Linked DNA regions of Homo sapiens. The main gene of each other region encodes a partner of the protein of the gene in region 2 in a complex. Each region holds a gene or a part of one and is shown on either strand. Other genes may lie near its edges.

Region 1 (2,823 bases), on a different chromosome or scaffold from region 2:
ATGTACCCTAAGATATGTTGTACTGGGGGGAAGGGCACATCACCTTTGTAGTACCCTTTCTGATAAAACGTAGCCTCAGTCTAATCACGAGGAAACATCAGACAAACCCACACTGAAGGATGTCTTACAAAATAACTGACCGGTACTCTTTCTAGTGTCAAGGTCATGAAAGACCGAGAAAATGTTATATTGGAGGAGACTAATGAGACACTGATAACTAAATACATGCGATGTGGTATCCTGGACTGGATCTTGACAACAAAAAGACATTAGTGGGAAAACTGGTAAAAGCCTAATCAAGTGTGCAGTTTAGAAAATACTAGTACCAGGGTTAACTTCTGAGTTTTCATAGACCTGCCATAGTTTACAGAAGGTGTCCACGCTAGGGGAAGCTCAGTGAAGGGTACAGGGAACATCTGACTATCTTTGCCAGTTTCTGTAAATCTGAAATTACTACAAAATAATTAAGTTTTTTGTGGGTTTTTTTTTTTTTTAAGTACAGGAAAGCCACAGCACCAAACCATGGTTGTATTTAAAATTAAGACAGGAACTTTCAGAAAATTAAACACATTTTCATAGTAACTTGATCAATACCACAGTTTATTTGTAAACATGTTATATGTGTCAATAATCAAATTGACAACACTTTATAGATTTCATTGTATAATATTAACATCCTAACAGAAAACGATCCACTGTACTCAGTTACAGTTTGGTATTTTAAAATCCTTAAATACAAATTGTATTTGAAACACTGAACACAAAAAAGAAACATGAATGGCAGAGAAAACTGAAAACAACAAGTAAAAGAAACCAATATTCCGCTCCCCTGAAAAAAAAACATAAAATCATCTGATTACATAATTTAAAAAAGAAACAAAGGAAATCAGATGACATTTTTTGATATAAAGTTGCATTTCTTCAAATCCATTTTAGAGGTGAAATTGTATCAATATTAAATTCTATGTCTTTTTTGATATTTGTTCTTTCTTTCCTCTTGGTTTCTAAAGAATGTTTGCCAGGGTTTAAATTACATTAAGGAAGCGGGAAAAAGAAAGGAAGGAACATGGTAAAAAGCCAAATGAAATTAACTATTTGCAAAATAATTGGACGTAAATTTTTCATGAATCTTCTTTGGCAAATAACAAAGTCTGCATTTTAAATTTACCTTTTTGTTGAAATGGATCAATGCTTGTAAGATTTAAGAGATTACATGAGTTAATGTATAAGTAAAACAAAGCCAAATTCACAAAGCAAGGCGCAAACATCAGCTTTTCACATTTTGCTAAAAGCTCTAAAAATGCACTCTCCCTCCTTAAGAGGACCAGAGGTCTTCAGCTCGGAATCAGATGATTACCCTTGCCTCATTCAACACAAGAAACCAGAGGGGACCCCATGGTTCTTCGGTACTTTCCCTAAAATTCATGATCACTATTAGGTTCTATTTCTTCCTCCTTTCTCTCTCAAAGGAAATATAGCAGCAAATCATTCCCATATTTTAAGCTTTAAATTCACCAACAACTGGGTTCACTGCCAACAACTACAAATGTTCAATTCTGTATTAGTGTACATGTCATTACAGTTGGTTTAGATGGTTAATATAGGAATAAATAAAATAACTACAGTTCAAACAAAGGAAATTAAAATGAGATTAAAGAGCCCCGATCAAAAAAAAAAAATACTTACAACTTTCAGCTGAAAAACTGTAAAAGTTACATACATACATACCTAATGGCACTAGGAATGTACAATATCAATTATTGGAAAAATAAGTGAGTGACTCAGAGTCGTAAGAAATTATTTAATATTAGTATTTTTTCTTTTATAGACAAACATAACATACACATGGTTTCTACCTTCTATAAGACAAAGTAGAAAACTAACCGTTACTGCATTTACCTCAAACACAGCACTGACTGTGCCACAGATAACATGGTCCAAAATATTCAATTCTATAGATAGGCCATGGTATTGAATGCATGGTTAAGTTTTAGGAAAGGCATATATTTCCTGAAGTATGTATGTTAAATACACAAATATCTATAAATAACAAAAAGTTACCAGCAAAAACGTTTAGGTTATAACATTCCCAAACTTCCTAACATTTTAAGTGTTTTAGATATATGTTGTCTGACCAGTTCGTTTGGTTACAGTTTTAAACTAGCAAACCATTACCCTGTAAGAGGAGCTAAACTAAACTATAACACTGCACAAACTTCCCAAGGAAGGTAACTTGAAAAGTCTAAAAAGTGATTCCAATTATTCTAATTAACATTTGAGATGCTAAAAGAATCAATGACTCAAGAAACACTTTGAAGTAATTCCATTTTTCTTTATCATTTTCTAAAAAAGTATTCACATAAATTTAAGATCCAGATTGCTTAAGAGTATGTCTTCAAAGTAGGTTTATCACTAAAGCATTCTGATCCAAAGACATAGTCTTAATGCTTCTAATATGTAATTCTAACCTAAAATCACAATCCTTGGTTTGAAAACATCAAAGCTAAGAAACAAAAAAATAAATCAGGGTGAAAGTGTGCAGCAGCTATAGCTACAAGAGTGGAAAATAAATTCTATTTTTTCCATAAAGACTCTATGAAAATATAAAGCCCAAAGTCAGTGACAACAGAAGTCCACATATAAATGGTGTTTAAAAATAGAAAGTCTTCTAAAGCTTCTCATGAGATGTCAATGAATAGTCATAATCTTAAGACCTTATAAATCAAGGTTAAGTTATACACAACTATGCTGATTTACATACCTTCTACAATGTCCAACTGACATACATAATTTACAGACACCCATAGGAATTCATAATGCCCT
Region 2 (7,309 bases):
CACAACATAATATTCACAGTTAACCAAATAAAGGGAACAAGTTCATTAAAAAATGGATCTCACATGGAATTGGGAGGACCTAGTTAGCACAGAAAATAACCCGAAGGTCCTAAATACTTTTATTTCTTTTAAACAGTTAAAACATTTTTCTTTTTTAGATGTTGTTCTTTACTGGAAAGTCTTAAAATACATAGAAGGAGAGTGTCTGTTTGAGCTATAAAACTAATTATAATTAATTATAAAACTAATTATAAAACGCTATATAGTTATAAACACAACTCTAGATATGCTATTCTTTTTTGCAAATAAATCTGCAAATTTATCAACAGCTCAATTCACGTAAGAACTAAACATCTATTTCGTGTGGGGGGATGAAGGGAGAATGTTCTGAAATACCAGTTTCAACTAAAGAAGTTCACATGGATCTCTTTAAACTGGATAACATGTTTTCATTTGTTTTTAAATATTAGTTTGAATAAGAAAAAAGTGAGATGCTTGTATTTTGAAAATCCTCAATAACCAGCGCAGATACAGTAAGAAATCCAACTAAGAAAGATCTACCATAAAAGGCTATTTTCCCACGTCCATTCCTTTCCTGCCCTCAACCTTGGAAATACACTACACCTTCCAAATACACACCATGGTTAACTGCTGCACTACTAGTAATAAAGACCATATATTAAAAACATCATTGGTCAAATTGACTTATTAGATTTTCATGAAGAAAATTTCATTTTCACAATTCTCCTTTGCTATAAGTTGTATGGAACTAAACCATGTAATTCAATTAGCTGTAAACTACCAGAAACTGTTAAATGCTAAATTCACCCTTTTAAAAGTATTTTATACAATGCCACATTCAGTTGCTCTACTGAAATATGGAAAAAAGATACGGCGATTTACAAAAACTGGTGTCAAGAATGTCAACAATAATTAATTGTAGACAATTAAAACACCACACAAGCTGACAAGTTTTAAAATGACCCTCTGAACATAACATTTAACACAATCATTCAAAAAGCCAAAAGAGCCACCTTGTTGCAGTAAATTGATTTTGTGGGAATCAATGAACAGGGAGGAAGTTGGTTCCTTGTATTTAAAATGAACAGTCCCCTAACAAACTGGGTTTCCTTTACTTACCCCTTGTAGCTGATTCGCTTGAAGGATCTCTGACACGGAGATGGCCAGACAAAGAGCCTGACTCAGATCTGCATCATCATCCTTAATTCCCAACAAAGTACTACCAAAGAGATGGTGATTATCCTGTTTGAAGGGAAATTTTTAAACATTATGAAAAAAAAAATCAAACTTTCTTCCTAAAAATATTCTTATTAAACCATGATAAAAGGTAAAATTATAATACTCTTGAGTTGTGATTTTTTAAAACTTAATACTACATAATCTCAAATTTTATAGGCTAAGAACTACAAAAATGTCACATAAAGTCCCTGTCAGTGTTCATACAAAATGAAAGACTAAGAAAAAAAAAACACATTCTAAATAGCTATTTTCTATACTACCACCTGTAGTTAATATTGAACTTTAAAAATGGTTACTTACAATTTTTCATATCTTAATAAAAACAAATATGTGGCAGAAATCTATTGCATAAATGAGTTAAAATACTGATCCACAGCCTGCTCTAATTCACAACTGCTAGTACAGTTTCACTATGTCTGAAGAATAAAAGGTGCAGCTCTTGAATAAGAAAAAAAATAAGACTTCTTTTTCATTCAGTATTTTAAACTACTATCCTACCATCTGACTTATACAGCATTGTTAGGAACTGAAGAGTTCTATATAAGAAAATTATTAAAATAGTTGAAACTGGTCCCTAGAAATAAGTCTTTTTAAATTAGTTATTTTTGAGGGAAAATGATCTTAAAAGGTTTCCTTTACCTGCTTTCTAAAACACAGTATACTAAACATAACTTAACTTTATCTTGACACTTCAGTGACACGATGAGTACCAACTAGAAATTATTATGGCAGAATGCTTTAAAAAAAAAGGTGCTCTCATGGGCACCTGAAGTCACATACAAACCTGTCTGCTTTATAAACTTGTGCCTCTTCCACTATTAGCTTTTGCTTCTTAGAGTTTCATTTTTCAGGAGTTCACATCACTCATACTTCTAATCTGGTGTCCTTTATTAGGCATCTGTCTGGTCTAAGGATCTAAGTCTTTACGGGGCCTAAATGACCTTTCTTTATAAGACAGCTCAGCATTATTAAGACTATACAAGCCTGAACTCCAGAGAAAAGTGGCAAAACTCTACCTCCTCCACTGGATTACTACTGTAATATAATTTTTTTTTTTTTTTTTTTGAGACAGAGTCTTCACTCTGTCGCCCAGGCTGGAGTGCAGTGGCACAATCTCAGCTCACTGCAAACTCCGCCTCCTGGGTTCACGCCATTCTCCTTCCTCAGCCTCCCGAGTAGCTGGGACTACAGGCGCCCACCACCACGCCCGGCTAATTTTTTGTATTTCTTAGTAAAGATAGGGTTTCACCGTGTTAGCCAGGATGGTCTCGATCTCCCGACCTCGTGATCCACCCACCTTGGCCTCCCAAAGTGCTGGGATTACAGGCGTGAGCCACCACGCCCGGCCCTGTAATATAATTTTTAAAGTCAAGAAAGCACTAATTTAGAAAATATCTCAGTCAATTTTCTTATGATCAGAAATAACAATAATCAGAAGAGAGGTAAGATGCGTTCTACTATCTTTTTAACTTGTCTGTTCCTCCACTAGGGAGGGTATTTACAGAGATGAAAAAAAAAAATCACACAAAACTACAACACATAAAGAAACAGAAAAAATTGACAACCTATTTTAACTAAAGTGAATATAAAGTAATAAAACAATGTACAAAATATGAAATACAACATAGTTGGTCATTTCTGGTCTTATACCTTCCTAAAAGAAGCCGGTGTTTTGCTGCAATAATACTGAGCCAGAGAGAAAAGGTCTTCTATATCTTCTATATTCAGACTGGATGGAGTATTTTCCAAGAACTCTGAAATATTATAGACATAATATTTAGTAGTTTGTGAAAAATGCAAATATTGTTTATGTATCAGAGCCGAAATATCTTCATCATAAATACTATGCAAATGGAGTCTCAACACTGGTGCTTTTACAATGACTTGTGGAAAAGTGGATTTCTCCAAATGAGCTGAAACGGCTAATGTAAATCTCTTGTCAGTGAAGGATAGTGTCAGGCAATCAAATCAAATTCATTAACCTTAATTAGAATTCTATGATTTATTTATTAAACATATATGAAGAAATGCCAAGGCCCCTGAACATAAAAAATGCCTAAGAAATAGTTACTGACTTAAAGAACTTTGTCTTGTGTGAAAAAATAAAAATAAATCATTATAATACAGTAAGATAAACATTGTTATACAGATAGAACAAAGTGCCAGGGAATATAGAGAGGAAGTAACTATCTCTATGTGGGGGATATGGTGGGGAGAATCCAAAAGGAGAACCAAGGTTTCACAATTGAAATATCATATAAACTGAGTATTGAAAGGTAAATTAAGGATGGGTAGGGAGGAACAGAGGAGGGCAATCTATTCGAACAGTGAAACTAATGAAATAGTATATGGAAAGGAATGAAAGAGTGAACAAATATGAAGGAATGAATGAAGATGGCAAAATAAAGGAAAATAGTCTTTAAGGTCTGTACCTGGAGAGTGTTTATATAATCTGAGAGTTGAATGGAGCCTCAGAGCTCTTCTAGACTAATCTCCTAAATTTACGAATGAGGAAACTGAGTAACTTACACAGATAAAGAGACCTGAAATGTTTTCACTACATTAAATGATACTTACTGATAACTTCTTCTTTGCTGTCTGACTCTTGTGTTAAAATAACTTCTCTGTAAAAGGGAATCAAATCAATTTGAGTTAAATATTAACAGAGCACCCTGAGAAAAGAGGAAAAAAAATCTAACCAACCAGATACTTACTTTGCATTAACAAGGATAATTAACATTAAGAAATAAATAAAAAATGGATCTGCTTGTTGTAGATATCCATCCCATATTGCCTGAGTGACTTCAGTGGAACAGTAACATGCAAAAAGACTTCCAAGCTGTAATCAGGAAATGAAATGAGAGACATAAACCACTGGAGGTGACTTGTTCTCTTAAAAGTATTAAAGCAAATGAATAAGAAACATTATATCAAATTATCTGCACCTGATATTTAATGCGTACCTTAATCTTAGTGTATGAAATCCAAAGGCAAAACATGTGAATTCAAGGGACAATGGAGCCACATATTAACTGTGTGACTTAGGACATGTCAACCTCTTTAAAGCTTCCATTTTTACTTCTGTAAAAAAGAGGAATAATGCTACCCATCTTCTACTATTATTGTGAAAAGAATACCTAAAGTAACTAGCACATATCTTTGCCATAGCATAACTAGCATAATTATGGTCTGAGCTCCATAAGAGTAACTAAAATAATTACAATATAATAACAGCACAGTATTTAAATTACAAGGTAATTGTGAGGATCAAACGTGGTAATTTAAGAGCAGCTAATAAAACTTTAATCATAATATAAATATGAATTGCTCCCAAAGCTCACTTGTACATCACTTGAAAGAGATTAGGCCGGGCGCAGTGGCTCACACCTGTAAACCCAACACTTTAGGAGGCCAAGGTGGGTGGATCACCTGAGGTCAGGAGTTTGAGACCAACCTGGCCAACATAGTGAAACCCCGTCTCTACTAAAAATACAAAAATTAGCCAGGCATGATGGCACGTGTCTGTAGTCCCAGCTACTTGGGAGGCTGAGGCAGGAGAATCACTTGAACCTGGGAGGCAGAGGTTGCAGTGAGAAGAGATCTCACCACTGCACTCCAGCCTGGGTGACAGAGTGAGACTCTGTCTCAAAAAAAAAAAAATAAACACAAAAAAAAATAAATAACATTCATATCCTTCAATAAATTTCAGGAGCTAAGAGTTGTTAATTTATAAGCAACTCTACAGCCCAACTGTGTTTTAAGTTGCATGAAGTAATATTTTTAGATCATTCAACTTTCATTAGATACAGAAATAATTCCATCTACAAGTTTAAATTTAAAAAATTTTTAACAGCTAAAGAGAATTAACGGGAACACATATATTTAGTGCACTCTTTGTGCAATACTAAGCTAATACTAAACTATTATCACATACCATTAAAAATATCTCTTACTTAAATTCTCACAACAGGTGTGCAATACTAAGCTAATACTAAACTATTATCACGTATCATTAAAAATATCTCTGATTTAAATTCTCAAAACAGGCCTGGAAAGTAAACACATTTCTCCCCATTTTACAGGTGAGAAAGTAGATTTCAATTACTCCCCATTTTTTTCAGGCGAGGAACTTGGATTACTTTACTTTCTCAAGCTCACAGAGCTAGTGAGTGGTGTTGGGAACAGAAAAAAGCCTGAGATTCCACAGCCCATGTAATTGCCATCACACTTGACCACAAGGCTTTTAAAATACATAATGCTACTAATGTTTTTTGTGGTTGCTTTAAAAATTACGATTACAAACACAGATTAGAAGAGGTACATACAAACAGAATAGCAATACACAGTCATCTTTAAGCTCACTTAGCTCAACGAAAGTTACCACTGCATTGCTCACAGTGGTTTAGGAATTACTTTTTAATTGTTTCATCTCATGATACTTAAAAAACTCTATTTCATCAACATGATACTAGTAGCAAGAGTAAACTATCTGAGGCCAGGCACAGTGGCTCACGCCTGTAATCCCAGCACTTTGGGAGGCCGAGGCGGGTGGATCACGAGGTCAGGAGATCGAGACCATCCTGGCTAACATGGTGAAATCCCATCTCTAATAAAAATACAAAAAATTAGCCGGGTGTGGTGGCGGGCGCCTGCAGTGCCAACTACTCGGGAGGCTGAGGCAGAAGAATGGCGTGAACCCAGGAGGCGGAGCTTGCAGTGAGCCAAGATCATGCCACTGCACTCCAGTCTGGGTGAAAGAGACTCCGTCTCACAAAATAAATAAATAAATAAATAAGTAAACAAACAAACAAACAAACAAACTATCTGGCATATCAGCTGAAGAGAAACCACTCAGTTTAAACCTCCAGCTATCAGCACGAATTCAGAGCTCTGGCATCAGAAATGGCATTTCCTAGGCAGAGAGACCTCTATTATTAAAATGCCTAAGAAAAATAGTTTACTACCTTAACATAAATAGGTAGATTCAGTGGCAACATATGAATCTCAGAGAAGCTACAGTTTTGACAAGACTAGGCTTGGCTCACACCTGTAATCCCTGCACTTTGGGAGGCCTGCGTGAGAGGATTGCTTGAGCCCAGGAGATTGAGACCAGCTCAGGCAATATGGTGAGACCTTGACTCTACAAAAAAATTAAAACATTAGCCAAGTGTGGTGGTGCATGCCTGTGGTCCCAGCTACTCAGGAGGCTGAGGTGGGAGAATCACTTGAGCCCAGGAGGTGGAGCTTGCAGTGAGCCAAGACTGTGCCACTGCACTGCAGCCTGAGAGACCAGAGCAAGACCTCGTCTCAAAAACAAAAACAAAAAACTGACAAGACTGTGGCCAAGAGGGAATTAAAGAACAGGTTACTGAGGTTTGAGATTTAATGAGCCCAGAAGTGAAACCAGTTAGAATTCTCCAATTACCCATTTCCTGATTGTTAACTCATCCTATCATCCTCTGAAGTAGGTACAGTACTATTATTTCCACTTTGCAGATGAGGAATTGAAGCTCAGAGGCTGTCTTAGATCACACAGTTAATAATGGGAAGAAATGGGATTCTTCCTGAAGAAAAGTTAAGTAATACATAATAAAAGGATATGAACATATAGTCTCCTAGGACCCAATCATTGTTTTAGAAAGATCTCAAGTTAACCAGAAGAGCAGCAGTTAACCAGAAGTGTGGTCTGGGGACCTCGTAGAAGTCCCCAGGATTCTTTACAAAGGATCTGTAAGGTCAAAACTATTGTTACACAAATATGTAGAATTTACCTGCCTTTTGCATATATATTCCCTCGAAAATGAACAATAGAATTTTCCAACGCCTACATGATATGTGATATTATCACAGATTGAAATAAGGGCCAGGTGTGGTGGCTCAGGCCTGTAATCCCAGCACTTTGGGAGGCTGAAGTGAGCAGATCACCTGAGGTTAGGAGTTCGAGACCAGCCTGGCCATCGTGGTGAAACCCCGTCTTTACTAAAATTACAAAATTAGCCGGGCATGGTGGCCGGCACCTGTAATCCAAGCTACTTGGGAGGCTGAGGCA

What was found.
Region 1: the proteins of TBC1D23 (region 2) and FAM91A1 are in contact, whole or in part, in a crystal structure (PDB 8JJ9), measured with the Homo sapiens proteins. Residues at the interface, in NP_001186127.1 of Homo sapiens: Arg533, His534, Val535, Ser536, Ser537, Asp539, Val541, Gly542, Lys543, Pro544, Tyr545, Arg546, Val548, Pro550, Val551, Phe552; in NP_659400.3 of Homo sapiens: Arg49, Glu60, Arg61, Tyr64, Asp84, Ile85, Lys88, Gly89, Leu90, Arg91, Ile92, Thr93, Phe95, Ser96, Ile159, Pro161, Tyr176, Ile177, Thr178, Glu179, Asp181, Ile182, Lys190, Asp194, Ile197, Asp198, Tyr216, Asn217, Lys218, Gly219.

The regions. Positions count from the first base shown.
Region 1 is NC_000008.11:123,813,200-123,816,022, reverse strand, and holds the end of FAM91A1 (protein FAM91A1), read right to left. Parts: 3' UTR 571-2,823; downstream 1-570. UniProt on the Homo sapiens protein: As component of the WDR11 complex acts together with TBC1D23 to facilitate the golgin-mediated capture of vesicles generated using AP-1.
Region 2 is NC_000003.12:100,291,877-100,299,185, reverse strand, and holds part of TBC1D23 (TBC1 domain family member 23), read right to left. Parts: intron 4,342-7,309; exon of another isoform or gene 4,260-4,341; coding exon of another isoform or gene 4,224-4,259; intron 4,100-4,223; coding exon 3,975-4,099; intron 3,885-3,974; coding exon 3,838-3,884; intron 3,015-3,837; coding exon 2,911-3,014; intron 1,264-2,910; coding exon 1,141-1,263; intron 1-1,140. UniProt on the Homo sapiens protein: Putative Rab GTPase-activating protein which plays a role in vesicular trafficking. Involved in endosome-to-Golgi trafficking.